Linked DNA regions of Homo sapiens. The protein of the gene in region 3 purifies or fractionates together with the protein of the main gene of each other region. This does not show direct contact. Each region holds a gene or a part of one and is shown on either strand. Other genes may lie near its edges. The genes, in order: PLAA, UBL7 and OR2G6.

Evidence for each region.
Region 1: the proteins of OR2G6 (region 3) and PLAA purify together in Homo sapiens (affinity purification with mass spectrometry; one large-scale study listed by BioGRID and IntAct). This does not show direct contact.
Region 2: the proteins of OR2G6 (region 3) and UBL7 purify together in Homo sapiens (affinity purification with mass spectrometry; one large-scale study listed by BioGRID and IntAct). This does not show direct contact.

What each region holds. Positions count from the first base shown.
Region 1 is NC_000009.12:26,916,144-26,919,798, forward strand, and holds part of PLAA (phospholipase A-2-activating protein), read right to left. Parts: intron 3,387-3,655; coding exon 3,167-3,386; intron 1,106-3,166; coding exon of another isoform or gene 1,023-1,105; coding exon 954-1,022; intron 563-953; coding exon of another isoform or gene 474-562; exon of another isoform or gene 1-473. UniProt on the Homo sapiens protein: Plays a role in protein ubiquitination, sorting and degradation through its association with VCP. Involved in ubiquitin-mediated membrane proteins trafficking to late endosomes in an ESCRT-dependent manner, and hence plays a role in synaptic vesicle recycling.
Region 2 is NC_000015.10:74,454,570-74,458,224, forward strand, and holds part of UBL7 (ubiquitin-like protein 7), read right to left. Parts: intron 2,103-3,655; coding exon 1,983-2,102; intron 1-1,982.
Region 3 is NC_000001.11:248,521,421-248,525,075, reverse strand, and holds part of OR2G6 (olfactory receptor 2G6), read right to left. Parts: intron 3,466-3,655; 5' UTR 3,430-3,465; coding exon 2,479-3,429; 3' UTR 1-2,478. UniProt on the Homo sapiens protein: Odorant receptor.

The DNA.
Region 1 (3,655 bases), on a different chromosome or scaffold from region 3:
CAACTTCATGATGCTGACCTAACGTTGTATGTTTGTCCAATCTCTATGACTTAGAGAGGACTGTAGGTTGTCATTTTTATAGCTCACAGTACCAGTCTGCAAGGCCAGTGGATACCTAAACGCTATGATCTCTTCCCAAACTGAGTATACTGTCGAGGAACTCTGTCTGAAGATCCAACAACAGCATTATACAAGATATCAAAAGCCATTCTGAAAATAGAGACTTCTTCAGCTGCCTTAAAGTCCAACTCTGGCACTTTTTCCAGTAGTGTTGATGCTGAGGCATGCATACCTTGGTAAATAAATTCATTTTGAAGAGATACACCAACACTTCAAGGGCTTCAAGAAGGACATTAATAACTTAGATTAGGAAGACTACTCCTGGGTAGTTGGGTGGAATGTCTCCTTCCATGTTAAGTCAAAATATGCCTGGGGAGACTTCTTGATTGTACTGCTCCATCCAATATCAGGGCTCACATGGCTCCTTCTCTGCTCGTGATTGGTAGCATCTCGCCAGTGATAGCACTCATGCTGTGTCTTGGTTGGTGGGTTCCCCTATTATCTAATTTCACAGATAAAAAAAATAGGCTCAGACAGGTTAGGTAACTTGCCAACTTCTCATAGCAAGTAAGTGGTAGAGCCCAATTTTGAACCAAGGTTTGTCTGACTCTAAAACCTATATTCTTAACTATACTGCTCTCCTGGTGGGAAGGACCCCTGGAGAAAACAATGAATTCTAATAATATGCTATTTAAAAGTCACGAGGGAATCTACACAACCACTCCAGGAAAAAGCAAAAATCAGAAGTTAAAGAAAAGGAAATCCATCAAAATTGGAAATGCAGATAAGGGAATTACCAATTACTGGATGACATCTCCAAGATGTAAAGCCATGTGATGCAAGATGCTATACATTTAGTGAAGAAAGATACATGAATCAAAACTACATCCCACCTGTAAAAGGATCTGCTGTGGGTAGTGTGTTAGAAGATCCCGAAGAGCCCGGAACATACCGACCACCACCTGTGCATGCAAAATAAAGAAAAGGCAGAAGTGCACCAAAGTTCTGAATTTTTCAAACAGCACAATGCTTGTTTTAGAAGAACCTACATTTGGAGAAAAACAGAAGAGCAAAACTTTCACATGATAGAATGACAGAAACTATAGTCAGAAGTCTTATAACTGGGAAAAAACTGAAATTTTAATGATTCTCCAAGTTTTGTTTTCTTAACTTTAATGCTTTATTATACCTTAGCCCCAGCACTTAAATATTAAAACTTAATTCAAATATCAAAAGAGAATTGCAGGTAATATCTGACCTAAATATATAAACATACAATCAATTCCTGTCCCTGTTCCTATACAAATTCACAAGAGTTCCTGCTGTTGTTATTGTTATCAAAACCACAGGCACTAAATGTTAATCATTTAGAGCTCTAGGTTCATTAATTCATGTGTCAAACAATGGACTCAGGGCTGGGGATCCAGAAGGGAACAAAATTGCTTATATCCACTGAAGCTTACAACCTACTGGAGAAGAGAATTAGAAAAGGGATGAAAACTACAAAGGAAAGAGACTTCCATTTATACATTTACGAATGTGTGGCGTATGTGCCTATGTTTTGTTAGTACCTCTAGGGAAATAATCAGGTTGTCCACAAAAAAAACAAAAAACAAAAAACAAAAAACAGTAAGGATGCTGAAAAAGTTAAGAGTCTCAGAAGGGCAAAACAAGCCAAGTGCTTCCTAGATTTCCAGACAAAGTCAGCTGCTTTAATTCCTTTCCTGTATCCCACATGCAAAATAGCTTACACAGTACTACAATCTGTGTTCACTCTTGAACTACAGTCTGAAATTCCAACAACAAAAATATCCACATACTAAACAATTATTTTCTTTTTAAGTGCAAGTATTTGGAGGATCAGATCATCTGTAATTCAGTAGTAAGTTACTTTGATAATTTTTTTTAAAATTTTTTGATTTTTTTCAGACGGAATCTTGCACTATCGCCCAGGTTGGAGTGCAATGGTGCGATCTTGGCTCGCTGCCACCTCTGCCTCCCAGGTTCACGTGATTCTCCTGCCTCAGTTTTCCAAGGAGCTGGGATTACAGGCGCACATCCATCACACCTGGCTAATTTTTTGTATTTTTTTTTTTTTTTTTTTTTAGTAGAGACAGGGTTTCGCTATGTTGGCCAGACTGGTCTTGAACTCCTGACCTTGTGATCTGCCTGCCTTGGCCTCCCAAAGTGCTGGGATTACAGGCGTCAGCCACCACACCTGGCCTGATAATTCTATTTAAATCAACATGCAGGTAACATTAGTTTTATTTTATGAATGGGCAATGAAATTTTGAAGTAGAATGAGGAGATAATTTGGGAATGTGGAGTAGCTGTCAGGGAAGAAAAGGTGGATCTACATAAGGATTTGAGACAGGAATATAATACAAAGTCCTCGTAAAACAAGGAAGAGCACTAGCACCTGAAAAATGTTGAGTCAGAAATGATGAGAGGAAAACATTAACAGTAAAGTGCCTATCTCAAAATGTTATTTAGAGGAGGCATTTTATTTCCTCCTACACCAGTCTCCAGAACTCACGTTAATATTACTAGGATTAGATTCCACTTCCTAGGGGCCAGAATTTGGACTAGTACCATTAGGATTACAATTTACAGACTGGTATGAGCACCTAACTGCATTTATAACATGAGATACGATGTATACGATGTTACAAACAATTAACTTAAAATGAACGTGTAGAATACACATCACATATAAACTAAAACTACCCATAGGGTTCACTTTTAGATTTGATGCATGACTGACCAATTTAGCCTCATGTGAAAAAAAGATTTACTAAATTTTGCCAAAATATAATTTTTTAAAAGAAACACTATATAAAAGAACTTACAAGTTTATTTTTGTTTCAAATAACTGAAATTCCATTATAGTATGATTGTATTTTTGAAAGACAACAATTTACTATTATTTCTGTAAAATACAGAATTACTTCATCATTTGAGGCTTAAACATATGAATGTGAAGTAAAACCCTGCTGTAGATATTGGTATTTATTGAAAAAGCTAATCACATGACTATTTGAAAACATCAAAAAAATCAATCAACACTAATGGAACTACATAAGACTCAATATAAACACTAACTTACCTGTAAATGGATCTGAAAAGCTGGGATTCCCAAGTCCCAACATTTGACCTTTTGTGTTATCAATAATAAATTTAGCTACTTGATCCAGAAACATAGGATTCAAATCATTCTTCTGTAAGAAGTTGTATGCAGTTAACCAAGGGTCATCACTGGTATTATATGGCAATTTATATGATGGTCCACCTTCATTGACATCAATTGAGAAAACATAATCAAATTCCTAAAGTAGGAATATAAAAAGGAGATACATGCTTATTATCTGTTCACATATATTAATGACATATACAACATAACACAGATGTGTTCTTTAATAATTACAGTACTTAAACTTTCTCCAAAGTGCAGTGCTAAAATCTTCGTTTTTGGCAGATAAAGATTAACAGCCCCCATCTGCATGTGATGCAAAATTAGTATTTCATTAGGGGATGGGGGTGAGGATGAAGGATGGATTACAACTACATATTAACTCTAGAGCCAAAGCAGAGTTTC
Region 2 (3,655 bases), on a different chromosome or scaffold from region 3:
GTATTTTTAGTATAGACGGGGTTTCTCCATGTTGGTCAGGCTTGTCTCGAACTCCCAATCTCAGGTGATCCGCCCACCTCGGCCTCCCAAAGTTCTGGGATTACAGGCGTAAGCTGCTGCACCCGGCCAGAAAGGACTTCTTACAGGATTTTGGTTTTGTCTGGCTGATTTGGGGAAAAATTTAAAGAAGTGAGGTTTTACTCTGGATAGGATGCTTTCAGGCAGTGGGAGTGATTTTATAATTGAGTATCTTAATAACTCTTACCTAGAAGGAAGGAAAACTAGAGCAAGGTGGAAGCTGTAATTGGCCAAGAAGCAGCTGTTACTCTCATCAGCCAAGATAGAAAGATACTTGGTCACCTTTGTGGTTTGGATAATGCTCATGTTTTTGTGTTTCTGTTCAGCAATAATAGGGATCTTGTTTTTGTCTTAATCCATAGTGGTCTCAGAGTGGCCTTGACTGCTACTGGGGATCTGTACAATTGTTCATGATCCCCAAAAGGATTCCAGGGCCTGGCTGTGAGTGCCAGGCCAACCTCTGGATGTCAGGAACTCTGTTCCTCTTTCTCACTTCCCATCAGGGTATGAAAGACATTTTTGTCTTTTACAGTTAGAACTGAAAGGGGGGTAAATTTCAAACTGATAACTAGTCACAGCAATCATGAACATTATAAAAAGATGTCAACCTGCCAGTGTAACAAAGCTAATCTCTTTTACACAGCTTAGCTTTATTCTTAGGGAGGCTTTTAAAACACACATGCAAAATTTAAATCATGAATTCCAAGCACCTTCTATTTATAAACCAAAAAGGCATCTGAGGCTTTGTATATTTTCTCCAAGAGCTATTTAAATACTCTTTGAATATCTTCAGGAAAATACCAGTATAGCAAGAGCAGTTAGCTAACTGAACAAATCACCACCTGAGGCAGTTTGTAGGAAGATTTGTTAACAAGGGAATAAACTGCAGCATTAGGAAAGTGCCAAAAGTTTCCAGCTTTTTTCTAATGAGAACAACGATAATAACAAAAGGATACAAAGTTTACTTTGTATCACTAAAAAATAAACTGTTAACTTAAAGGAGTTTAAGTAGACACAAACTCCCTGTCCCATTAGGAAACAGTGGATGACAAACTTAGAAAGTGGAGAAACAAGCCAGGAATGGTGCCTGTACTTTGGGAGGCTGAGGTGGGGTGGATGGCTTGAGGTCAGGAGTTCGAGACCAGGTTGACCAACATGGAGACACCCCGTCTCTACTAAAAATACAAAAATTGAAGGCCGGGTACAGTGGCTCACGCCTTTAATCCCAGCACTTTGGGAGGCCGAGGCGGGCAGATCACAAGGTCAGGAGATCGAGACCATCCTGGCTAACACGGTGAAACCCCGTCTCTACTAAAAAACACAAAAAAAATTAGCCAGGCTTGGTGGTGGGCGCCTGTAGTCCCAGCTACCTGGGAGGCTGAGGCAGGAGAATGGTGTGAACCCGGGAGGCGGAGCTTGCAGTGAGCCAAGATCACACCACTGCACTCCAGCCTGTGAGACAGAGTGAGACTCCGTCTCAGAAAAAAAAAAAAAAAAAAAATTAGCTGGGCATGGTGACTCATGCCTGTAATCCCAGCTACTCGGGAGGCTGAGGCATGAGAATCACTTGAACCTGGGAGGCGGAGGTTGCAGTGATCCAAGATCAAGATTGTGCCACTGCACTCCAGCCTGGGCAACAGAGTGAGACTGTCTCAAAAAAACCAAAAAACAAAAAACAAAATGGAGAAACAAATCTTCCATTAGTGATGCCGGCAGTAAGAAGGTCAAAATTGGACTCTGTTTATCAGCATGGTCTAATCCAATAAGTAATAAAGATATCATTTATCATCAGCTCAGTAAATCATCCCTTTGTTCCACCCAGGCTTGTGCCTCAAGAACACACAGATCCTTCCCTTGCGGATATTACAGAAACTCTGCCTGCCTAAGGGCTGCCCCTCACTCACCCGGTTTCTGATCAGGTTCAGGCCAGGACTTTCGCAGAACATGGACAGTGGACCCAGGTTGAATGCCATAGAAGTCAAGTGTCTGGTCATCTTTTAGCTTCCGACCACAGTAGATCAGATCTAAAAAAAGAACTGTCCACTTATATTTTGCTCCTCAAAACAAATTTACATGGTTTTTGTCCCGAGAACCTTATTTTGATTAGATAGCTGGAGAATGATACATGTTTTAAAAGATACTCTTATTCAATAACTTAACAAATACTTTTTTTTTTTTGGAAAACAGGGTCTTACTCTGTTGCCCAGGCTTGAGTGCAATGGCACCATCACGGTTCACTGCAGCCTCAACCTCCTGGGGTCAAGCAATTCTCCCACCTTAGCCTCCTGAGTAGCTGGGACTACAGGCACATGCCACCACACCCAGCTAATTTTTGTAGTTTTTTGTAGAGACGGGGTTTTGCCATGTTGCCTAGACTAGTCTCTTAACTCCTGGGCTCAAGGGATCCTCCTGCCTTAGCCTCACAAAGTGCTGGGATGACAGGCGTGAACCACCATGCCTAGCCAATTAAATACATTTCAACAACTATTTGCAAATATAAACTCATAAAATGGACTTACATCGAATCTGGCCAGATGTGGTGGCTCACACCTATAAACCCAGCACTTTTGGAGCCTGGCCGACATGGCGAAACCTGGGCCATGGCGAAAATTAGGGCCGGGCACGGTGGCTCACACCTGTAATCCCAACACTTTGGGAGGCCGAGGTGGGTGGATCACCTGAGGTCAGGAGTTCAAGGCCAGCCTGGCCAAGATGGTAAACCTCGTCTCTACCAAAAATACAAAAATTAGCCAGGCATGGTGGCAGACGCCTGTAATCCCTGCTACTCAGGAGGCTGAAGCAGGAGAATTGCTTGAACCCAGGAGGCGGAGGTTGCAGTGAGCCAAGATCACACCACTGCACTCCAGCCTGGGCAACAGAGCAAGACTCTGTCTCAAAAAAAAAGAAATATATATATATATACACACATACACACAAAAATTAGCCAGTTGTGGTTGTGCGGGCCTGTAATCCCAGTTATTCAGGAGGCTGAGGCAGGAAAATTGCCTGAACCTGGGAGACAGAGGTTACAATGAGCTGAGATCTCGCCACTGCACTCCAGCCTGGGCAACAGAGCAAGACTCCGTCTCAAAAAAAAAAAAAAAAAAAAAGGATTCACACAGAATCTATCCACAGAAAAACTCTGGAGTTTAACATTGTGGAGGCTGCCCAATTTAAATCAATGGAAAAACAACAAAATAGGATGAACCCAATCCAGGTATGACTGAAAACATCTTTCTTGCCAGTTGGATCCTTTAGCTATTAAAAATTACCTTTTCAGTGTAATTTAATTATATTTAAATTCCTCCCTCCTCCACCTGGACTGCCCACGCCACTTTTTCTTTTTTACTGCCTTTCCTTTACTCAGTCAACCAAGCAAAAATCCTTCTAATCATCCCTGAAGACCTACCTCAAATATACTGAGGAGCCTCCCCTGACCAACTTCTCCTTTCCTAACTCATCCCAAACTTCTGTTCTTTCAGAAAAAGAATTCACAATGTTGGCCAGGAGCGGTGGCTCATGCCTGTAATCCCAGCATTTTGGGAGGCTGAGGCGGGCAGAATCACAAGGTTAGGAG
Region 3 (3,655 bases):
CACATTATAAATAAAAATAGTATGAAATTATACATGTATGATGATTATAAAAGCAGTATAAACATATCCATATCATAGGAAAGCTCTAAATTCAAGAAAGTAGTAACAGGATTTTATTTTCAAATGTGTTCCCATTTTCATCTGCAGTTAAGTAGTTTTTTTAGGTTGCTTTGCCTATGTTATATCTATTATTTTCTGGTTTCCTTTTGGGTGCAAATAACTTACAGCTAAAGATGCTAATTTCAGCAATAAGCAGATATTCTATTTTTTTCTGAATTATGTTTGAATTTATTGTATACAGTAATAATTTGATTTTATTTTCAGTGGGATTTGTATTCCATATTACCTTAAATGGATGTGAGTTTGTCTTTGAAAATGGTTGCTTCACAATTCATATGTAGGTTTTTCTACATATTGTGTTCATATCATTGCTTTACACATGGTTGTCTTTTCACCTGGAGCTATTTCTTTCCTTTAAATGCCACATCTTTTGCCCTGGGGCCATATTCCATGTAAATTGATTGAGACTCTGACACAGGTACATTCTTTCCTATGCTGTGTTGCTCGGGTTATCAGGAATAATGCATTTGTACATGTGACGCTTCCTGTAGAACTACTTCTCTACTTGCATATTGTAAATAAAAACATGTGCTCCTCAGCATGTTCTGCTCAGTTCCCAACTCTCCTCTCCATTACTGGAGGAGGAAAATCACATAAGAATATCCTAGAAGACAAATTTAACCAGGCTTCTTTTCCCTCGTTTTTGTTAAATTGGATATTCATCATTTTGTTTGCTAAAAGTATATTGAAGAGGTGCCAGCTGGACAGGGTATTTGTGAAGAGGCAGCCTGAGTCATTAGTGAATTCTCCTGATGCCTTTTTGTTCTTGTGTGCGCAGCCATTTTGCCTTCAGTCCAGGCTTTGGTAGGAGAGGCAGGTCCAAACGTTATCCTTAACATTCGTAGACAGGCTACAATATTCTCACACCAGGATGAATTATTATAAATCTGAATGTTGGAAGGCTGAGGCAGAGGGATCACTTAAACCCAGGAGGTCAAGGCTGCAGTGAGCCATGATTGAGCCACTGCACTCCAGCCTGGGCAACAGAGCAAGACCCTGTCCAAAAAAGAAAAGTCTAAATCACTTGAAAATTCCACTTCCACCCCAGATTCTGCCTGCATTTTACTCTTCATTTGCATTGATGTTTTCATGCTTTTTTCATGTGTATCATAATGAGAATATGAAGTAAAATTACAACCACAGATTAAATCACTTTTTTCTATAATTGCACAGTTCTCTTAAAATACTTGAGGTTGACGAATTGATGAAGTTCAATCGTTTTGGGAAAAGAAAGCAAGAAAGAGGCTGAGACACACAAAGATACACAGAGAGATAGAGACAGAATTAAATCAGAAAGTAAAAGTTTGGTCAAATATAAGAATACATTTATTAAAATGCTTCTAAATATTTCATTTTTTTTGCTGTTTTGGAAACCAAACATATAACTATGATCGTTAACGTGAGACAGTGTGTGGGATTCATATTTCAAATTTTTGAAGTATAAAATTACATAAGTAACTGTTTTCCAGAGTTTAAGGCCAAAAACAATAACTTATTTTATGAATTTTGTATAAATGTTAAAACACATTTTAGTATATGGCAATTTTACTCAACTTTTAATCAATCTCCTTAATTCAAGTTTGCTTATTTGATTCCTTTAATAAAATATTAGTCATTATTTGCATCCCACAATTCTGTGGAACCAAAGCATCACAACTCTTAATATTTGTGTTTCTCGTGTTGTAAATAAGCCAATAGAGTGGGATGGTTCCATTCTCCAGTTAAAAGTGACATATTCTGGGAAAATGGTCATGTATTTTTTCAGTCTGTTATATACATTGCTTTGCCTAGTTAGAGATATATGTATACATATATCTCAAATGTGAAATGTAGAAATGGTAGTGTGGATCAAGTGCTATGGAAACATATTATGAAACAGTTAATTCTGCACAAGGATGAGAAGGATGGTGTTTCAGGACAGCTAGTGAGTGCAGGTGACATTTCAGCTGAGTTTTGAAGCATTAGTAGAAGTCTATCAGATGGGCTGGCACATTAGAAGGAAATAATGGATACATGAACCTTGATGGCAGGTGGATGAAGGACAAACATTTTTTTCCAGATAGAACACAGGGTCTTGGATTGACAAGAGGAATGTCTGGGAGGATGAACCCTCATGCTGCTTTGGTGTGTTTCTCTTCTTTAGAATTCCAATGCTTCCTAGTCCCTGTGGCTTTGGGATTGACAAGAGGAATGTCTGGGGAGGATGAATCCTCACGCTGCCTTGAGGTGTTTCCCTTCTTTAGAATTCCAATGCTTCCTAGTCCCTGTGGCTTTGGGATTGACAAGAGGAATGTCTGGGGAGGATGAACCCTCACTCTGCCTTGAGGTGTTTCCCTTGTTTAGAATTCCAGGTGTTTCCTAGTCCTTGTGGCTTTGTCCAGCAGCACTACCCAGTATCAGGGTCCTCAAGGCCCCTTTCACATCTTTGTTTCTCAGAGTGTAGATAATGGGGTTTAAAAGTGGGGTGACTATGGTATAGAAAAGAGAAACAAACTTTCCCTGGTTTTTGGATCTCCTATTGGCCGGTTGAAGGTACATGAATATGATGGTCCCATAGAAAATGATGACCACAACCAGGTGAGACGAACAGGTCCCAAAGGCCTTTTGGCGGCCCGCAGCTGATTTTATCCTTAACACAGCTTGAGTGATAAAGCCATAGGAGACTAAGATGAGTAACACCGGGACAATTAGAAAGACTACACTGGCCACAAAGAGTTCTGCCTCGTTGAAAGTCGTATCCACACAGGCCAGTTTGATGAGCACTGGCACCTCACAGAAAATATGATCCAGTGTGCGATGACCACAGAGGGGCAGCTGCACAGTGAGGGAGCACTGAATTAGGGAGGTGATGAGGCCGCTGAGCCATGCTCCACCGGCCAGAGACGCACAGAACCTGGGGTGCATAATGGCTATGTAGCGCAGTGGCCGGCAGACAGCAGCATAGCGGTCATAAGCCATGACGGCCAAGAGAATACACTCAGACGAGCCCAACCCCATGGCCACATAGAGCTGGGCCACACAGCCACCGTAGCTCATGGTTTTGTCTTTCTTATTCATGGTAACCAGCAACTGTGGGGCAACACTGGTGGTAAAGCAGATGTCCACACACGAGAGGTTGCTGAGGAAGAAGTACATTGGAGTGTGGAGTCTGGAGTCCAGACAACATACTAGTATGAGGGCAGTGTTCCCCAGAAGGCTCAAGACGTAGAAGTACAAAATGATGGCAAAAAGAAACCTCTCTAGCTGAGGCTGATCTGAAAATCCCAGGAGAAGAAATCCCTTTTCAGAGCTGTTGTTGGTTTCCTCCATTTTTCCTGCAGCTTCAGGACTCTTCAGCTTCAAATACTAAGTGATTAATATTTGGGGATAGAAAGTAATGAGGTCAAGAATGGTAATCCACAGTCGTTTACAGTATAATTATCTTCCTTATATATCACCTAAAACATGTTGTGAAGACCTATAGAACTTTCCTCAACATAAATCCATGGGCGGGAAATGCCACTTCCTTCTATTTTTATTGAATAAAGTTTTACTC